Linked DNA regions of Homo sapiens: region 1 is linked to region 2. The links come from fine-mapping of genetic effects on gene expression. A gene starts in region 2. The other region holds a variant in brackets. All regions are shown on one strand. Distances are from middle to middle.

Region 1 (9,619 bases), 64 kb after region 2:
AATCAAATATAGGACTTAGGGGATAAGGAGACGGATTGGGACAGATGAAAAGTTAACTGAGACTTCTTCTCCCCAAAACAAATTATAACTTCACAATCATTTTGAGAAATTAACAAAGGAGAGAAAGGAAAGACTGGGAAAACAAAGCTATTTTCTCATGACTGTGTTATTATCTTTACATAGAAATACTAAAGAATGTTGCCTTTTATTCATTCAAAAGTTAGTATTTATCAGCAATTACACACATTTATAAAGTATTTCACATGTAGATCTCAACATTGTGGAAGACAGGAACATTTCTTCACAAGAAATCAATGACTGCTCATTAGTTTGTAACTTGCATGTGAACAATAAAGTTATACTGAAAAAAGTCTATACTTTACATTTATAGGAATAAAACTGATACCTAAAAGATAGTAAAAACAATGAAATAGTATGAGTTTTTTTCACTCAATACCTAAAAACCAGTAATACTGAAATTGATGACACTGCATTCTGTTGTGAGGGCAGTGTCTCAAATGTCAAAGAAGAGAAATTTAGGTACGTACCTTCATTGCAAGAGCAATTAAGGCCCCTTCTGTTGGCTTCCCCATTAGAGTATTGTTTCTAATTACAGCATCATTGCACACACAGCCCGCCTAAGAAAAATACACATAAACTATGAACCTATCACTGTGTCTTAAGTTATTATGAAGAAAGTCACCATCTTGGAAAAAAAAATATTTACCTCAACAATTCTGCTAACAGCTGGGTTATAGAATCCATGAACAACATCACCATCAACAATCACTTCCCCAAATTGATTATAGCCAACTCCAGTAACCTAAAGATCACAAAGTGGGATCAATAATACAAACACTACAAACACTTGGTGGTGACAAGACCTATAAAACCCAAAAACTATAATGAGTTCTGTTCATTTTATTTATAATGACACTGTTAAAAGTGTTCACCTAGAAAAGCATTAAAATTTGTCTTTAAAAAGGACATTTAGTAAAGAAATATAGATTCTAATTCTCATCACAATTATTAATCTAAAAAGACATTGTTTTCTAATTACAATATACTGTTAAAAGAATAAGCTATGAAAATATACATAAGTAAGCTTAAACTTATATGACATTACACTTATATAGCATACTACAGTTTGCAAAGAACTCAAATGCATTACCATATGTAACATACAACACAAAGCTGTGACTTAGACAAAAGCAGTATTCTTTTTGCAAACATGCAGGCCTGGAGACATTGAGATATATGCTAGCACTTACAAATCACTTTAACACAGCATATTACACACCAATTTTAAAAATCAGAGGTAGAGACAAACCAGGTATTTATATCATATGTCTAGAACAAACCAAGCCAAACGAAAAGAAATTTCACAATAAAAATCATACAATTTAGTGGCCAGGTGTGGTGGCTCACATCTGTAATCCTAACACTTGGGAGGCTGGGACAGGAGAATCACTTTAGCCCAGGAGTTCAAGACCAGCCTGGGCAACAAAGCAAGATCCATCTCTATTAAAAATAAAAATAAATAAAAAATGTTTAATGACATTAATTGAGAGATAAAACAATTAACAAATAGTTAATGCATTACATATAGCATGACCTTAAAACAAAAGAAAAACTAATATTCTACCTTCCATACCTGGATCATATAAGCACATGTAATCCCAATGACCCTTCTGAATCATCCAGAAAGGGCACATTCACCAACACAGCATGGGGGATCTTTGACCAGATCTAACACCGTAAATATCAAGAGTCTCTTTTCAAAACCTATGTAAAATGGACGTAAATAAACCCAAGTACAACTTCTGTCAATTTGCCTACTGCTTATTTTTCTCAATGAATTAGCTATAAATACATTTTAAATCACTGTACCCAACATAAGTAGTGTTAAGAGCATTCCAGTCAGAAATCCTGCATAGACTGAGTAGGATTAGACCTGTCCATAAGCACCTTCAGGAAGAACTACTGCACAGTGATGTGCACTTAAGAGACAATGTATCAATATATAATTGTTAAAATAAAGTGATTCATTCATTCATTCATTTATCGAGTATTTATTACTATGAAGCAGGCTGTGTGCTAGGCAATATAGCTCCTGCTCTCTTATAATGGGGAAAAGGGACAGAAAATTTTACCTAAGATAAGGACTAAGAGGTATGAAATGCTAAGACAACATATAACATAGGGCCACTTCTGGGTGTTCTGAAGAAGTGGGTTGGAATTAAGGTGCAAAGGATGAAGAGGCATTAGACTATCCTAAACAGTGACAAAGGCAGCAAAGTTCTTAAAGTAGGAATAATTGTGTCACATCGAAAGAACTATAAAGCCAGTATACTTGGTGCACAGAAAGCAAAGGGTAGCATATAAGGGTAGAGGAGAAAATAAGGGACAGAACATGTACGGCTTTGAGACGCCACAGTTCAGGATCCTGATCACAATGGAAAACCATTGGAGTACCTTAATTTATGGAGTGACATGCTTAAAATTTGGTTCTAAAAAGATCCCTCAAACTGCTTATGGAGTGAGGGCATCAAGAATGGAAAAAGACCAGTCAAAAAGCTTTATCAGAATGGCAGGTGAGAAATGGCGGTAACTTAAAGAAGCTGGCTATAAAGTAGATGGCTGGGAAAATTCTTTAGGAAGTCAAAATTGGTAGGATTTGATTATGGATAGATGAAGGGGTGACTGAAAGAGAGATGTCAAGGAGGAATCAAAGTTTTTGGATTGAACAAGTGTACAAGTGGAATGAGACAAAGACTTGGTAAAATCACAGAGAGAGAAAATAACTCCACTACTAATTTACAGCCCTTTTGAAGGTAAGACACTGGAACTGTTAGGAATGTTAAACACCAAGTTTCTTAAAGGGATACTGTTTTTGTTTGTTTTTAAAAACCTATAGAGTACCTCAGCATGCAGACCATCTGAAGTAAATATGTGAGTAACAGTCATTTCATTCTTCGTCAGTGTTCCAGTTTTATCTGAACAAATCACATTACAGCAGCCTAAAGAATTAAATCATTACAAGTCACCAAAAGAATCAAGGAGAAATATAGGTTCACTTAAAAAACAAATCAAAGACTAGAATCCTGTCCTACTTCTCTGAATTTTATAGAAATCAAACTCATTGTTAATTTTAGATTAACTTCTCTCATTATGCTTGTTTCAGCATAAGGTACAGTTTCTGAAATTAAAAATAAAAATTAGATGATGACATGTTCTTATTTATATACAGTTAGTTTCTACAAAGCTACTTCACATTAGCTTTATGTAATGATCTTATATAACATCTTTTCTAGAAAGTTTGGAGAGTTTCTAAATATAAACCCGTATAATTTCTTCAATCAGGATTTTTCAAGGTATTTCAGCTTCTCATATATGGAGAAGATATTAAAATACAAACTAGAAATTAAATTCAGTACATTTTTGGAGTTTCAAAGCATATTGCACATAAAGTTTTGTTACAGCAATATAACTACTGTAAATTTACTGTTCTTACAGGCAAATTCAACTCAAGTATGACATTTGGGATCTGTAATAATACATTATCTTCTTTGACATGTCACAAGAAAAAAATTCTATTAATTTTACTCCAAGATTTCAGTTGTTGTATGGATTTTCTTAACATGATTTGTGCATTAGAACATGATGTAGAAAGATTTCTCTTCAAGTCCCCTCACCTAAGGGATAGGAATTTTTAATTGCCTTTTTTGGTTGTTAAAACCATATCCAATTTTGCCATAAGCCAAACATCATTATGCAAATCTCTAAGATAAAAACTGTAAAACTCTGAGATGATTCACTATTGACATAAACTTACGCATCATTGCATAAGAATGCTCTTAACACAGACTTACCCAGAGTTTCAACAATAGGCAGCTTTTTCACAATGGCCCTTTTCTTCACCATTCTCATAACACCAAGAGCTAGCGTCACTGTGACCACAATGGGGAGACCTTCAGGAATTGCTGCTACAGCCAAACTATAACCAACATATACAAAGTATTAAAATGTAGGTTAAACAGCACTCACAGCAAAATTTAAATTGGATGTTACTTAAAGCTTAATAAAACGCAAAATTAATATAGTCAATACCTAAAAAATAAACTTCTCAAAAGGAAGAGAAAGTTAACATTTACTGGATACCTAGTAGCTGCCAGGTTAAGCACAGTGGTTAAAAAATGTAGGTTCTGACATCAAATTGCCTGGATTTGTATCCCTGGCTTCACCATCTCTTACTTGTGTGATCCTGGGCTACTTACTAATCTAGCTCTGTAGTTTACTGTCCTCATCTATAAAATACAGATAACTACAAATGTTCAAACAAAAACTCATACATGAATGTTCACGGCAACACTATTCACGATAGCCAAAAGATGGAAACAGGCCAAATATTCATCAACTGATAAATGTAAAATTGTGACATCCATGCAATGGAGTATTACTTTAGCCACAAAAAGGAATGAAGTACTAACACATGCTACAACATGAATAAACCTTGAAAACATTATGCTAAGTGAAAAAAGACAGATACAAAAGGTCCCATATTATATCATTTCATTTATATGAAATATCTAGAATAGGCAAATCCATAGAGATAGCAGATTAGTGAGTGGTTGCCAGGGACTAGGGGAAGAGGAAAACTGGGGAGTGACTGCTTAATGTGTACAGGGTTTTCTTCTGGCATGATGAAAAGGTTCTGAATCTAGATAGCGGTTAACAGTTGTAAAACATTGCGACCATACTTAACTCCACCAAATTAACTCTTTAAAACTGTAAATTTTATAATATGCGTATTTTATCACAGTTTAAAGAATTATTTCACTCGCCTTTTATAATTAAAAAATAACAAGTCTTTCTTTGTGCCATTCCAAATACTATTTCTTGATCTGCTAGAAATAAGGACATAAGCAATTTAACCCTTCATTCTACCACTGTTCCCTCTGCTGCTTCTACTTCCTAATTTCCATTACCAACTTTTTCTTTGCATAATCTAGTACATTAGCATCCTTTTCTATAACCGTAATTGACTTTTTCATGCTTTATTTACTGGTTGATTTTAAAGTTGAAAGCACATAAGCAACAACATTATTGGCTAAACAATACACACTGAAGAGTCAAGAAATATGTATTATCATTAATACTTCCTTTTCTCCTTTGGGCTACTCAAAGAGAATGTTCCTAGTTCAAATGGAATCCTTTTTTTTCTTTTTTCTTTTCTTTTTTTTTTTTTTTTTAATGCTTCCATTAAGGAAAAACAGGCATTATCACTTACAATCTAGATACAACGAATCTTTTCAATCTTTTATATTTAAGTCATCTTAGCAAAACTTTGCAGAGGAATAATTAAATTGTAAAAAAACTTCACTCTAAATTTTCATTTTAATGATAACCCAAAACT[A/G]TTCCTGGACTTGAAGGCATCTATACCTGAAATGGGTAACATCTTTTGGATGCAACTAACTGCTCATCTACTGCTTTTGGTGAACTTGGAACATATTTATCTTATAAATATTGATTTCAGATTTCAAAAAATATTTCTAACAGGCGCTAGCTTATTAATCTAGTTCTTCTTTCTTGCATTTGTTCTGTCAAATTGCAACACTTCTAAAACCACTGATGGCTCCCAATTGTGTTGAAAAGAGAACAGTTATCTTCTTTGGTCCATGACTGCAAAACATTTTCAATTTTAGATTTATAAACACCAATTACAATGATGAATCCAATGAATTTTTCTACTTCTGCATAATCTATTTCCTTTTAATCACTTTTATATTCATACCAGCCTTCAGCATTTCTCCACTTAAAAGCAGTATGAAGTCAATGCTGATAAACAAGCATCATAAAAGATGAATGAAATAGGGTCATGCATTCGTTTAGCTAAAAGAGATGGTCCAGATTCTTGCTGAAAACTACTACATGATAGAGTCCTTGCTGCAGAATGATTAACTGGAAGAGAATACCTGTTTCTTTTTTGTCCTTAAAAACAGATTGCTCACTCATCAAAATTAAGGTGTTTGAGAAGATCTAGAGTATCATCATCCAAAGACTCAGTCTTGAGATTTCACTTATATTATTAATTTCACCCACATCATTACGGCCTACAGTGCTTCTATTTGGCTCTTTGCACTGATCTTCTGATTTGTCTAATAATTGTGAAAAGTCTTCTCTGTCAATTATTCTCTTTGCCATTATAGTAGAAAGTGAAAAATTCTGAATTCTCATTTTTGTTCAATGAAAGCTGTAACAAACAAACCTAAAGATTGTGCCTTTAGACTTCTTTTACACCTTCTTAAATGATGCAATACTTTAGGCAACACAATAAGAAAACTAAAGAATAAGAGAATAGTGATTATTTACTTTATTATTACATCAACCTTCTCAATGATTCCATCATTTTTCTGCTTTCTTATTGTTTTAGTCATCTTCAGCACTCTTGCAAATAATTGTTAAAATAATTCCTAGGGTGAAGAAATTGTAAAATACTTCAAGAAAGAGGAAAAATAGGATCATTAAAGGTCCCATAATGTAGCTTATACTTATAAAAGATTCCAATGGATCCATACTGCAAAACAGAATTGCAAAATAGAATGAGTTTTATTCTATTTGAAAATTTTTAAGTATCTTGTCCTTTGGAAGACCTTGAAGAAAGAACAGAAGTTATGATATGTCAATCTGTACAAACAGAACTCAAAAAAAAAAAAACCCAAATCCTCAAAAACTAAAAATGATCCAATGGATAATATGTCAATGTTTAATATCTCAAACTTATTCCCCATTTTAAATGTATTTTATATTTAACCCATGGCGTTTTTAAACACAAATTTAAACCAAGAGTTTCAAATTGCATTTTCACCCCCTCCCTTGAGAAAAAAAAAAACACATTCTTTCACTATATCACAAATATCTTTTTACTTCTTATTCATTCTGATTCCTTGTAATCTATTTGACTTTTCTTTTTGAAAGACATTGACTTTTGTTCTAATATTTGAAATATTTCATATGCCTACAACAGAGGTCTACCAGGATTTCTTTTTCTTAGATGCCTAAGTAAGTTCTTGCCCTTTCTTATGTCTATTATCATCTTCCTTTCTTTCACCCTTGTTTTGCTGGAATTCATATAAGGATGGGTAGGAAATGAATGTTCTGAGTACTTGCCTACCTATTTGTCACTAATTGGACCAATCCTTTGGCTAGGCCCAATTTACAGATTTATGATCAATTGCCCCCCTAATTTGTTACCACGGCTCCACTTATTCTAATGCAATCTGATGTTGCTGTGGATGAACAGTTAATAAAATAATCTTCCCCTTCTGGATTTGATTAACTCTAGTTCTGTTCACCTAGTGACCTGGTAAGAATAATATGTCAAGTATGCTGCTAGATAACACTGCTATGATTAAGGGATCCCCTGACTAATAAAATCTCTCTGGACTAGGAAAGTTATAATTATCTTATAGGAAATCATAGCTTTGAGTTTCTCAAGTGTAGTAACTTGTAACTAGACATGTCCTTTGCAGGCATCTGGAAATGCATGTTTCAAAATACGTCTCTCATAGAACACGAGATATTTTAACCCAAGGTAGATCCCACACTCACAAGGTTGACCTTATCTCCTTGTACTTGAGTGAATTGCTACATGGACTGCTGCGGACTCTCAGGAGAAGGCTGCCTGAAGTTACCCTGCTGTGTTCAGGGCACAGGTATCAGATGTGGTCTGTGAAAGTCTTGTGAGTTGGAATGTTTAGAAGAACCCAAAAAGATCCTGTGGTAGAAACTGCAGTTGCTAATGAGAAGTCTGATGCCAGCGTAGTTACCCTTCCTTTGTAGATGACCTGACTTTTCTTCTTTAGTTTCACAATTATGTATCAAGGTTGAAGTTTTTTCCATTCTGCTTGGTATTTAGTGAATCCTTTCAATCTATAAAGACTTACTTTTTGCCTTAGCTTGAGAAAATACTTGTGTGTCATATCTTATGTAATTTTTGAAACTCCAATTAGTTACAAGTGGTATTTCCTGAAATTATTCCTCTTCATCATTTTATCTCATTCTAAGACTTTTTACTCTTTTTGGGGGGAGACCTCTTTGAATTTATATTACACCCCTACAATTGAATTTTTAATTTCAACAATCATAATCTTAATTTCTAAAAACTCTTTTTGTTCTCTGATCCTTTTCTACAACAATTTATCTCATGGATGCAGTTTCTTCACAAGTCTCTGAAAATACAAACACTTGGTTTTTAAATTTGTCATCATTTCTTCAATGTTTCGTTTTCCTCTGAAATTGATTATTCAATTTCTATATTGTGAACTTTCTCTTTCATGTTGCTAGTTTTCAATTTGACAATCCTTAATTGTATATTTATATATAAAAAGGCAATAATGCATTAGTAATTCCAGACATCTAGTATGGGTTTTCTTCATTACCATATACATACATTTTCATTTTTCTAAGGATAATTTTAATATATGACTTCTGAACTATTTATGTAGCGATGTTATACTCTTATGGGCTCCATGTAATACTGATCTCCATAATAAAACGTAAGCTATGTCCATTAGAGAAATAAAAGAGGCAAAAGAGACTCCAATTATAAAGTATTGAGACTTACCTTACACTAATAGTAAACATTTCCAGGATATCTTTTCCCAGTAACCAGCCAACCAACATGATGATTCCTGAAAGATAATTAAATAGTTATTTTTCCCTTTTACATACAATCACCTAGAAGGAACAGAACAAGCTGAAGGAATCTAAAACGTCCCTTGACAAAAAAGGGAAAGCATATCAGATCACAATTAGAAGATTTTATAAAAATCCATTAAACAGGGGAGGTTAAAGTTAACACTGCTTAATGTGAATGCTGTGCATACTCACATACGTACATGTGTGCACACACACACCACACATGCACACACACACACAGTTTTACTTTTGGTTGACACTGCTCCTACCATCCCTTAAAGCAGTAATATTTTATTATTTTTTTAAAAATTACCAGTATGTTCATACAATGAAAAAAAGAAGGTGGCAGCAAACATATAGGTCTTCTATTTAATATCAAATATGCAAAATTAAACCCTAAAACTTTATTTTCCATAACACAATATCCAGACACTTCTCAGCAAATCCATACTACACACAAAGGGACACTTACGACTTGGCTCAAAAAGTGATGTGCCTTACGTTAAGCACCTACAACTGCATTAACATCTAAAAATCACTACTTTTATGGCATTTCAAAAATTTAAAAATCAATTAAACCAATACTCCTTGCTTTAACCTTTTATCTTTGAAAAGAATAGGGGGAAAGGGGCGCACAAGCAGGTTTGTGAGGAAAAAGCAAACAGATTCACGAGAGGTTTGATAAAATAAGCTATCTCAAGACTGCAAATCAATATGAACATTTAAGACAAGTTTTTTTTTTCATCTTTATATAACTAAAGAATAATTATCCAAATAGCAACCTTCTAAGATCCTATCCCAAATACTATCATGATGAAAGAAATTATGTCCAAAGGATTATACCAGGGGTCAGCAAACTATAATCTGTGGGTCTCCTGTCTGCTTAGGTAAATGAAATTTGTTGGAACATAGCCACACT
Region 2 (9,619 bases):
GTGAAACCCTGTCTCTACTAAAAATACAAAAATTAGCCAGGTGTGGTGGTGCATGCCTGTAATCCCAGCTACTTGGGAGGCTGAGGTGGGAGAATCACTTGAACCTGGGAGGTGGAGGTTGCAGTGAGCCAAGATCGTGCCACTGCACTTCAGCCTGGGAGACAGAGTGAGACTCCGCCTCAAAAAAAAAAAAAAACTGATTAATTTACTAAAAAGAAACACTACCCAGGCCAAACAAAAGACATCTGAAAGCCACATGTGGCCAGTATGCAATATGTTTTAGATTCTGATGATGAATGATTCCTTTCCCAGAGATTGTGGACTAGACCTTCTGGTGCCAAATGATTTTTGTCCGTTATCCTCACCACTGGATTCATTCCACAAACATGTCTGCCATCTTCAGCTCCAGTCATGTGTTTTTTTAAGATTGGTTCAGGTACAAGAAAGATCACTAACAAATCACTTGCCAACCAACCAGCCCCAGCCCCCTTTCTTCTCTCTCATTCTCTTTCTCTCTCTCTTCCCCGCTGACTACAAACACACTCTCTCCACTCACTTATTATCTTAAGTCTAAAGGTTTCAAGTTTGATCTTCATACATCTTATTTTACATCCTTTTAATTAACTTTTTAGTCCTCCTGTGAATTATCTTAAAATTTTTCATATTCCTCATTAGTTGAAGAAACCAAAATTGGATATGATCCTACAGTGTAGTTTTTAGAAGTACTGGGTCTGGTTTAGGTCTTACTCTCAATGTTTCCATAAAGGTTATCTAATAATTGTCAGAAATTTATCATTCTATTCTAAATGGCTAGAAGAGCACCTCTAGGATTAAAGAGAAAAAATCCTTTTCAGCAGGAATCATAATGCATGTTCTAAGGACATCAGAAAAATGCCAGCTCTTTTATCATCCCTCATGTAGAAATTGACTAAAAACTATAAATTCTAGATAATTACAGCTTTTAAAAATTCTGGACAGAGACCATTTAAAAGATTGAGTTTTAAAACAAAGTAGTAACATCACTAACATTTACCTTTACAATTCCTATGACCTATGAAGATGTAGAAAAGTGTTTATCACACTGATTTTAAATCCACTCTTAAATATCCAATAGGCAAAAGCTGGAAGAACTTAGAGTAGCCTTAAAACCTTAGAAGAAAACAATATATTATGGGATGAAAATGTGGTCTTCTGGGGTTAAGGGCTGATATCTTGGATCATTCTTCCTTCTGCTTTCTGTTCCTCCTGTGTTTCTGATAGGCAAGTTTCTTACCCTAACTTCAGTTCCAACTTACTTTCCACTGCAGCAAATTAAAAAAACTTTACACAAAAACTAGAGGTTTATCTGTAAGGGAGGTACTGTCTGAAGCTATTAAGAGTTTTTCTCTACTATGAAAGTGTAGAGGGTCCGATCATAATCAAAAGAGACGAGGTGACAAGGGGGTCATTAACATAAGCTAATTTTAAATAGGAGTGTCCATTTGGTTTAAGTGTTTAATCTGACAGCTTTCTGACTACGGAATTTGAAAATCCTCGCCATGGAAAGCCCAAAGAAAATTAATACTGTTACTTTCTTTGGTATACCCTATTCATCTCAAATGTGAATAATTGTTTATTTGCATTTTGTAACATTTCTAAAAATAGTCATTATGAACAATTCTTATTTTCTCATTCAAGAAGTTCCAATCAAGTTAAGTGGAAGTAATATTGTCACTGAGACTGTGGCATGCCCAAACATCTTATTTTCACATAATCTATCCCATTTCTAGCTCCCTTCTTTAGGTCATTTGGATACTTTATTCACCTGCTGAAATGCCTTTAAACCTAATATGAAAGATTAATTAGGGAGCTTACCTATATTTATGAAATACTTGCTTTGGTATAAAGAGCAAAGTGGACATTACTCCATGTTCTTTTTTTTTTTTTGTCAGTCTTGCTCTGTTGCCCAGGCTGGAGGGCAGTGGCATGATCTCGGCTCACTGCAACCTCCACCTCCTGGGTTTAAGCAATTCTTGTGCCTCAACCTCCAAGTAGCTGAGATCACAGGCATGTACCACCCTGCCTGGCTAATTTTTGTATTTTTAGTAGAGACAGGGTTTTGCCATGTTGGCCAGGCTGGTCTTGAACTCCTCGCCTCAAGTGATCTGCCAACCTTGGCCACCCACAGTGCTGGGATTACAGGCATGAGCCACCATACCTGGCCTGCTCCATGTTCCTAATCAGCTAAGACCTGCAAACAAAAAGCAGCCTACTCAAGATTCATAGGAAGCATTTTTACTTACAATTCCTCTCCTCGTTTGGCTTTCTTGTCTGAAACCAGATAGACAGTTCCAAAACTTCCACTGCCAAGTTTTTGTTGAAGCACGTATCTTCTTGCAATCAAGGTCTTTGGATAAGTGGAAATGGCTGTTGATCCACTCACACACTTAGCTGCCTCTTGGAATTTCAGCATTGCTCCAAACAAGAGAGAACTGGTTCATTCATTTATAGAAACTTAACATTCCAGTCTCCTAAGAAATGGTCAAATTCATCCAGTGTTGGTCAGTTCCTTAAAGATGAAAAGTTAAAAGATCAGGTCTAAAGGTTGCTAAACGATGTCTAACAAAAAGTGTTAAGTGCAGTGATATCTGCACCTTGATCAGCAGACTGACACCATATTGGTTAACAACTTGAAAAAAAATGTTAAAAGGTAGAGATACCACAAATTCCAGAAGGCAATCTTTCACAGGAAGAGCCTCCCTTTGTACATTGAAATTTGGCAGAAGTGAATTATAGCCAACTTTCCACAAATTTCTGGGATGTACATCTGTTTTACAATGAGCAATCTCTTCATTTATTTAAGATTTATACTCCCCAACTACTTATAAAAGAATCCAAATACAAGAACATTATCACCTCCTTAAATCTATACATCTGCATCAACCTTTTTGTAATGCCCTCTTCTCACCTTATATTTACTTTGGTTTACAAAGAGTGAGTTAGGATTAAACAAGGAATTAGCAGGTGCTGTTTCCTTTAGATTTATTTTTTTCTGTAGATGTTAAACCACAGTTTTTGTATTTATTAGGACAGATGCAAAGAAGGATAAGGATTGAGAATTTTTTCCCATGCTCAGCAAATTCTAGTTTCTGAAGTTCCTATTGTACACATTGTGTATAATCTCTCTGGATTAAAAACAGGAAGAGTTACAAATTCAATTCAAACCTAAAATCCCATTTAATGTCAGTGGAATATAAATGCTACAGATAAATCTGTAATTCCTCAGGGAGCTATGAGACGTGGCAGTTATGAAAGGCAGGACTGTTTAGGCCGGGCGCAGTGGCTCACGCCTGTAGTACCAGCACTTTGGGAGGCCAAGGCGGGCGGATCACGAGGTCAGGAGATCGAGACCATCCTGGCTAACACGGTGAAACCCCGTCTAATACAAAAAAATTAGCCGGGCATTGTAGCGGGCGCCTGCAGTCCCAGCTACTCGGGAGGCTGAGGCAGGAGAATAGCGTGAACCCAGGAGGCGGAGCTTGCAGTGAGATCTCGCCACTGCACTCCAGCCTGGGCGACAGAGTAAGACTCCATCTCAACAAAAACAAAAACAAAAACAAAAACAAAAAAAAGAAAGGCAGGACTGTTTCATATGAGTAGGTACAAAGTAAAATCACTTTTATTTCATCAGAATGTTAAATGTTTTGTTAGTTATCAAGAAAAGTGTGCTTTTGTTTTAAATCTATATAGAAATAACATTTTAAATTGAAAACTGCCTACACCTTGAAGTTAGGTTTTCATATTCAACAATTCCAAAGCTATGAGACAAAAACCTAGTTTTTAAGGATGGTCAATGGGCTTTACGTGGTGGTGTCCGTCAACCACAAAAACTACTAGGGCAATTAACCACAAAAATCCTCAAAACAGAACATAAGTAAATGCCCATTTACAACATTTTCCTTCTTAAAATGTATGAATCAGTTAAGTTGTACCTAATACCAGTGAGATTAGTTACCAGCTTTTTCTTTTCCCTTCCAAAGACACGTTAGTAAAATCTGCTGGAAAAACAACTACAGAGCAGGCCTCTAAATATACCTTTTGTTTTTACTTCCCCTTCACTGTCATAAAAGTGATGCCGTCTGGCCATACTAAGCTGTTCAAATAAATATATGGACTTACAGACTTTCCAGCTGAAAAGGGTCCTTCAGGTCACTCAGTAATTCTCCTTATTTTAAAGATGAGATTAAGGTTCCTTTTAGAGAAGGACAGAATTAGGGACGGACAGAATGAGAAGTTCACTTCTAGCGGCTCTTATTTTAAAGGACAGTCTAAACCCAGCAGTGCTTAAGTAGTCTGGTCCAGGCTGCAGAAGACTCTGGGACTAGGTTCCCTCCCGCCCACCCTCACAGACTCAGCCCTGCCACCCCCATCCCAGTCCACTTTTAGGTCATCCATTCCATTAGTCTCCTCTGCGCAACCATAAACCTACCCAAGAATGTGTCGCATTGTCTAGATTCTAGAACTATCTGTTCACTTGACAACACGCTCCCCCTCGAGGTTTGAGTGAACTTGGGCACTGCGAACACATCTTCTTTATTTCTGCATCCCCAATCCCTGGCATACCTCCTGGCATATACTAGGTGTTTAACAAACCTTGTTAAGGCAAGTAAGTGTCCAGCAGATCAACTGCCGCCCAAAGGAGAGAAAAAAGGTTAGTTAAGAAAGCTAGATGGGAACTTGGAGAAAGTTACTACCTTGTGCAAACTACCCGTTCTCGGTGAAACAGATCTGGCTGGGGGCAAAAGACAACGGAAGGAGTATTTATCACAAGTTGAAAACCAGTAGTTATCTTCCCAGGTAATAAGAGGAAGGCAATTTGTCACCAGTTTCTGCTACAGCACAAATCTACCTTTAAAGTAAATCTTAACCTTAAGGTAAAACGAACAATTCCTTGCTTCTTCACCTTTTTAAACATTTACATTTTGGCAAAGCAGGTTAACGTTTATTGAGGGGCACTGAGACTGGAGTACATCCGGAGGTAAGATGTCCAGGAAAGCGAGGAGATCGCAGCCATGGCGTCCTAGAGATTCGGAACCCAGCCCGGGCAGCTTGAAACCATTACCTTCCCCCTCGCAGGGGAGCCTGGCTAGCCCCAAGGAGGACAGTTCGCTTTACCTTTCCCTGTCGTGGTCGGAGCGGCGCCCGGGGCTGCCCAAGTCTTGCGGGTAATCGGGCAGGCCTCAAACTAGGGGCAACCACACCCACCGAGCGCCAGACACCGCGGGCCACGGCTGTTTGGAACCGTGGCCAGGGAGACGGCGCGGGGCATACTGGGAAGTCGGGGCGAGGCGGCACCAAGGCGGAAGTGTTCGCCGACCCAAGTAGGCGGAGAAAGCAGAGGAGGACCGGCGGGCCAAGCTTTCCTAGCCTGACAGCAGCCATTTCGGAACGTACGTCCCAGCCCTCTTTAGCTACTTAGCGCCTCTGGGCCCGAGAACACCTGCTCCTTGGCTCAGTCTGGCGCCACCGGCATCACGGAACTGTACTTCCCAGAGACGTCACACCGGGAGACTTCCGATTCCCGCTCTTGAGATTGGACTCTCACGTGCAGGAGCCAGTCCTCGCTGGGCTCTAGCGGGCTTCTGATGGAGGAGCTACTCCTCTGGGAGGACAGAGTAGGTGGGCTCTGCTGCAGGTCCGGGCGGCGGGTTGTGAGGGCCGAGGTGGCACGGTGTATGAAGGCCTGTGTTTGAAGACTTAGGTCAGACCTTTTGCCCGCCTTTCCCCTATGCAGCTCTATGCAACTGTCTGTGCAAGGTCCTGTAATTTGCGTAGGACGCCTTGACACAGTCTCTGCTTATGGACGCTTTACAAAACTATCTTGCAAAGAAATAAGTACTATACAGGATAAGGTTCTGAGATACTGACAGGGCTGGAACTAGGGTGAGATAAGTGTAAAATGTAAATGGATGCCAATAAAATTCAGTAATCAAGGTAAGTTTTAATGCAATCTCTAAAAATCAAAATTATAGCAAAAAAAATCCATGACTGACAAAATGTCACGATTTTAAGTAATAGTAACAGTACCGTGCTGTGCCATATTGAAGCCCGAGGTGTCAAAAGAAAAACCATCAATTCTGATCCTGCGAGTTAAGTTAGCCAGGTGAGGAAGCGTAGCTGGGCCAGATATGCAAAATAAGATGATGAAAAGAGCTCGTGGTTAGGGGTGTAACTGGATAGAGGGGTTCCTAGAGGCATGAAGCAGTTTTCCTTATACCAAAAACTATGCCAATTAAGAAGGGCCCACAAATCCAAAGCCTGAAAGAAGTTCCGTGACTGATTGTCAATACAAAAGAAAAACTTGATCCTTATCATAGGTCCTACACACCTTACTTTACTGAAGCCCAAATGCTTTGTGATTATGAGATGAATATGATATCTTTTTTTTAGCTTAGGACTTTTTACTTTGACCCCACAAAACAAATACTCTGTGCTGTAAGATGTTGACTATTACCACTTAAGAATCAAAGTTCACAGAACTTCTATACTGGTGTGTCAGTAATGGACTTCAACTGATTTTTCTTTAGAATTAGCAGCAGCCTCTGTCACCATCCAAAGATTACAACCCATGAAACCATTGAATTTGTGCCTTGTATCAGAAAGCAAAGGAGAATGAAAAAGCACAGCTAACATTGCTTGAGGATCTAGGTAAGAATTTATGATGTTGATATCTATGTTCTATCTAAAGAGCACTTCATAACATTTGCTATTGATTTAATGGTGCTGGAAGCAATGACTTGGTGCCCCATAACTAGCATCAATTGAAAATGTTTTCTGTTGTTTTAAACAGGCGATTAATTCTTTAGACTGTCATCATGGGTATCCGAGGACTAATGAGTTTTGTGGAAGATCATAGTAATGAGTTCTTCACTGATTTGAAGTTGCGGGACACAAAAATTGTCATTGATGGTTATGCTCTTTTCCACCGTCTTTGCTTCAGTTCAAACTTGGATCTCCGGTATGGAGGGGACTATGATTCTTTTGCAGATGTTGTACAAAAATTCTTTGAATCACTGTTTGCTTGTAATATATGCCCATATGTTGTATTAGATGGAGGATGTGACATTTCAGATAAAAAGCTTACAACTTTAAAGGATAGAGCTAGAGAGAAGATCCAGATGGCCCATTCCCTTTCTGTTGGTGGGAGTGGGTACGTATGTCCCTTACTCATCCGGGAAGTATTCATACAGGTTTTGATCAAGCTGCGGGTGTGTTTTGTCCAGTGCTTTTCAGAAGCAGATCGGGACATTATGACACTTGCTAACCATTGGAATTGCCCTGTGTTATCATCAGATAGTGACTTTTGCATTTTTGACCTGAAAACTGGGTTTTGCCCATTGAATAGCTTTCAGTGGAGAAATATGAACACTATTAAGGGCACACAAAACTATATCCCTGCCAAATGCTTTTCCCTTGATGCATTCTGCCATCACTTCAGCAATATGAATAAAGCTCTACTACCTCTCTTTGCGGTGCTATGTGGAAATGACCATGTTAATCTACCCATCATGGAGACATTCTTAAGTAAAGCGCGTCTTCCTCTTGGAGCTACCAGTTCTAAAGGGAGGAGACACCACCGAATCCTGGGACTTCTGAATTGGTTGTCTCATTTTGCCAACCCTACCGAAGCACTAGATAATGTTCTGAAATACCTCCCAAAAAAGGATCGAGAAAATGTTAAGGAACTTCTCTGCTGTTCCATGGAAGAATACCAACAGTCCCAGGTGAAGCTACAGGACTTCTTCCAGTGTGGTACTTATGTCTGTCCAGATGCCTTGAATCTTGGTTTACCAGAATGGGTATTAGTGGCTTTAGCTAAAGGCCAGCTATCTCCTTTCATCAGTGATGCTTTGGTCCTAAGACGGACCATTCTTCCCACACAGGTGGAAAACATGCAGCAACCAAATGCCCACAGAATATCTCAGCCCATCAGGCAAATCATCTATGGGCTTCTTTTAAATGCCTCACCACATCTGGACAAGACATCCTGGAATGCATTGCCTCCTCAGCCTCTAGCTTTCAGTGAAGTGGAAAGGATTAATAAAAATATCAGAACCTCAATCATTGATGCAGTAGAACTGGCCAAGGATCATTCTGACTTAAGCAGATTGACTGAGGTAAGTATTTGTAATACTAATGAAATTTTTGTAAAGTACTTTACAGGATACAAAGTGCTGTCTTCTATATTAGTTCACTTACTATAACAAACTGATGAGGTTGAGTGCTATCTTGCCCTCATGTCGTAGCTAAGAAATCTAGAACTTGAGTGAACTAGGTAATGTCTTAGCCAGAAAGTGTCAGTGCTAGGACTCAAACCTAGCTCTTTTAGCTCTAAATCTACCATTTCCACTGTACTTCAGTAGTCTGTGTTATCGTCACAGTTATTACTACTATATTGTTATTACTACCAGGTTAATACTAGCTATCAATAGAATGGGTTACGTGGCTGAAAAAAAAAGGAAAAAAATTCACAACTGCAAAAAAAGTGTATAGACACTAATCATAGGCACAACATCTCAGACTACATCGGATTTCAGATAAGGTTAGTACTGATGCTAAGGTCTAATTTTTTAACTTTTATTAATGAATACCTTTTTTAAAATAGGTTTTTGTGTCATTATGGTTATTTGCCTAGTTTGATACAGAAAACATGACTCTTAGTCTAACTTAGTGTTGCTTAAACCTGAGTAACACCCAGACCACCTTTTCAAGGAGAAAAAAATTCTCATGGATCCCAGTGTTGTCTTTTTATATTACATATATATTTAAAATTACAAATAGATATGAAACTATGCTGATAAAAGAACTAGATTTAGACATTAAATAGAGATAACTTAAAAAAAAAACAATTGCAATGCCCATTAGGGGATCTTCTTAGATCCAATGAAATATTCAGTCTCACAAAACTCACAGACCACACGTGGCACCAGTCTACTTAAGGATGTAGGACGGCAACCACAGCTTCCCAGTGGATTTAAGTCAGGTCTTCCTTTTCTGTCAGAGTTCTCCCAGCACTGTTATCAGTCTACACCAAAGCTTTATCACCATTGGTGATTTTGTCCCCCAGAGGACATCTGGCAATGCCTGGAGACATTTTTGTTGTCCCTACCTAGGGAGTAGAAGGGGTAGTGGTTGCTATCGGTATCTAGTGGGGAGAGGCCAAAGATGCTGCTAAATTTTACAACCTGTAAGTCTTACAGTGCACAGGAAAGTGTCCCATAACAAAGAATCTCTAGCCCAAAATATCAGTAGTGCCATTCCCTGGGCTATACAGCTGACCAGGAACTAGCCTCTTAGCCTCCTCTTCAGTCACATCTCAGACAGGAGGAGATGAATGTCATAGTGAATGAGTGCAAGAGCCTTCTTGGCATTGGGCAGTGAGTCCAAGAGCCTTCTTGGCATTGGCGAGTGACTGTTAAACCCCCAGGGTTTCTTTGGTTGGGGGTGAAGAAAATGTTTTGGAATTAGTGATGGCTGCACAAGTTTATAAATATACTAAACCAAGGCAAGATGGCTCATGCCTGTAAGCCCAGCACTTTGGAAGGCCAAAGTGGGAGGATCACTTGAGGCCAGTAGTTCA

The links. PIP is the estimated chance that this variant, and not a neighbour inherited with it, causes the effect. A credible set is the group of variants that fine-mapping cannot tell apart.
Region 1: its variant is the best candidate, but not a certain one, in a credible set for the expression of ASTE1 in substantia nigra (GTEx, PIP 0.60).

Annotation. Positions count from the first base shown.
Region 1 is chr3:130,958,349-130,967,967 of GRCh38, reverse strand. It overlaps ATP2C1 (ATPase secretory pathway Ca2+ transporting 1), which reads right to left. Exons shown (of 28, transcript NM_001378687.1): 12 at 8,627-8,693; 13 at 3,873-3,997; 14 at 2,923-3,020; 15 at 728-823; 16 at 549-638. Among named protein-coding and RNA genes, the nearest start is that of ASTE1, 64 kb to the left of the region's middle. The variant A/G (reference allele first, on the strand shown) is at 5,417.
Region 2 is chr3:131,022,542-131,032,160 of GRCh38, reverse strand. It overlaps ASTE1 (asteroid structure-specific endonuclease 1), which reads left to right and starts at 5,336. Exons shown (of 6, transcript NM_014065.4): 1 at 5,336-5,654; 2 at 6,567-6,687; 3 at 6,830-8,156. The coding sequence starts at 6,855. NEK11 (NIMA related kinase 11) reads right to left here and starts at 5,284. Exons shown (of 18, transcript NM_024800.5): 1 at 5,155-5,284; 2 at 4,159-4,231; 3 at 2,283-2,548. The coding sequence starts at 2,452. RefSeq lists enhancers at 4,975-5,164, 5,245-5,304, 5,445-5,684.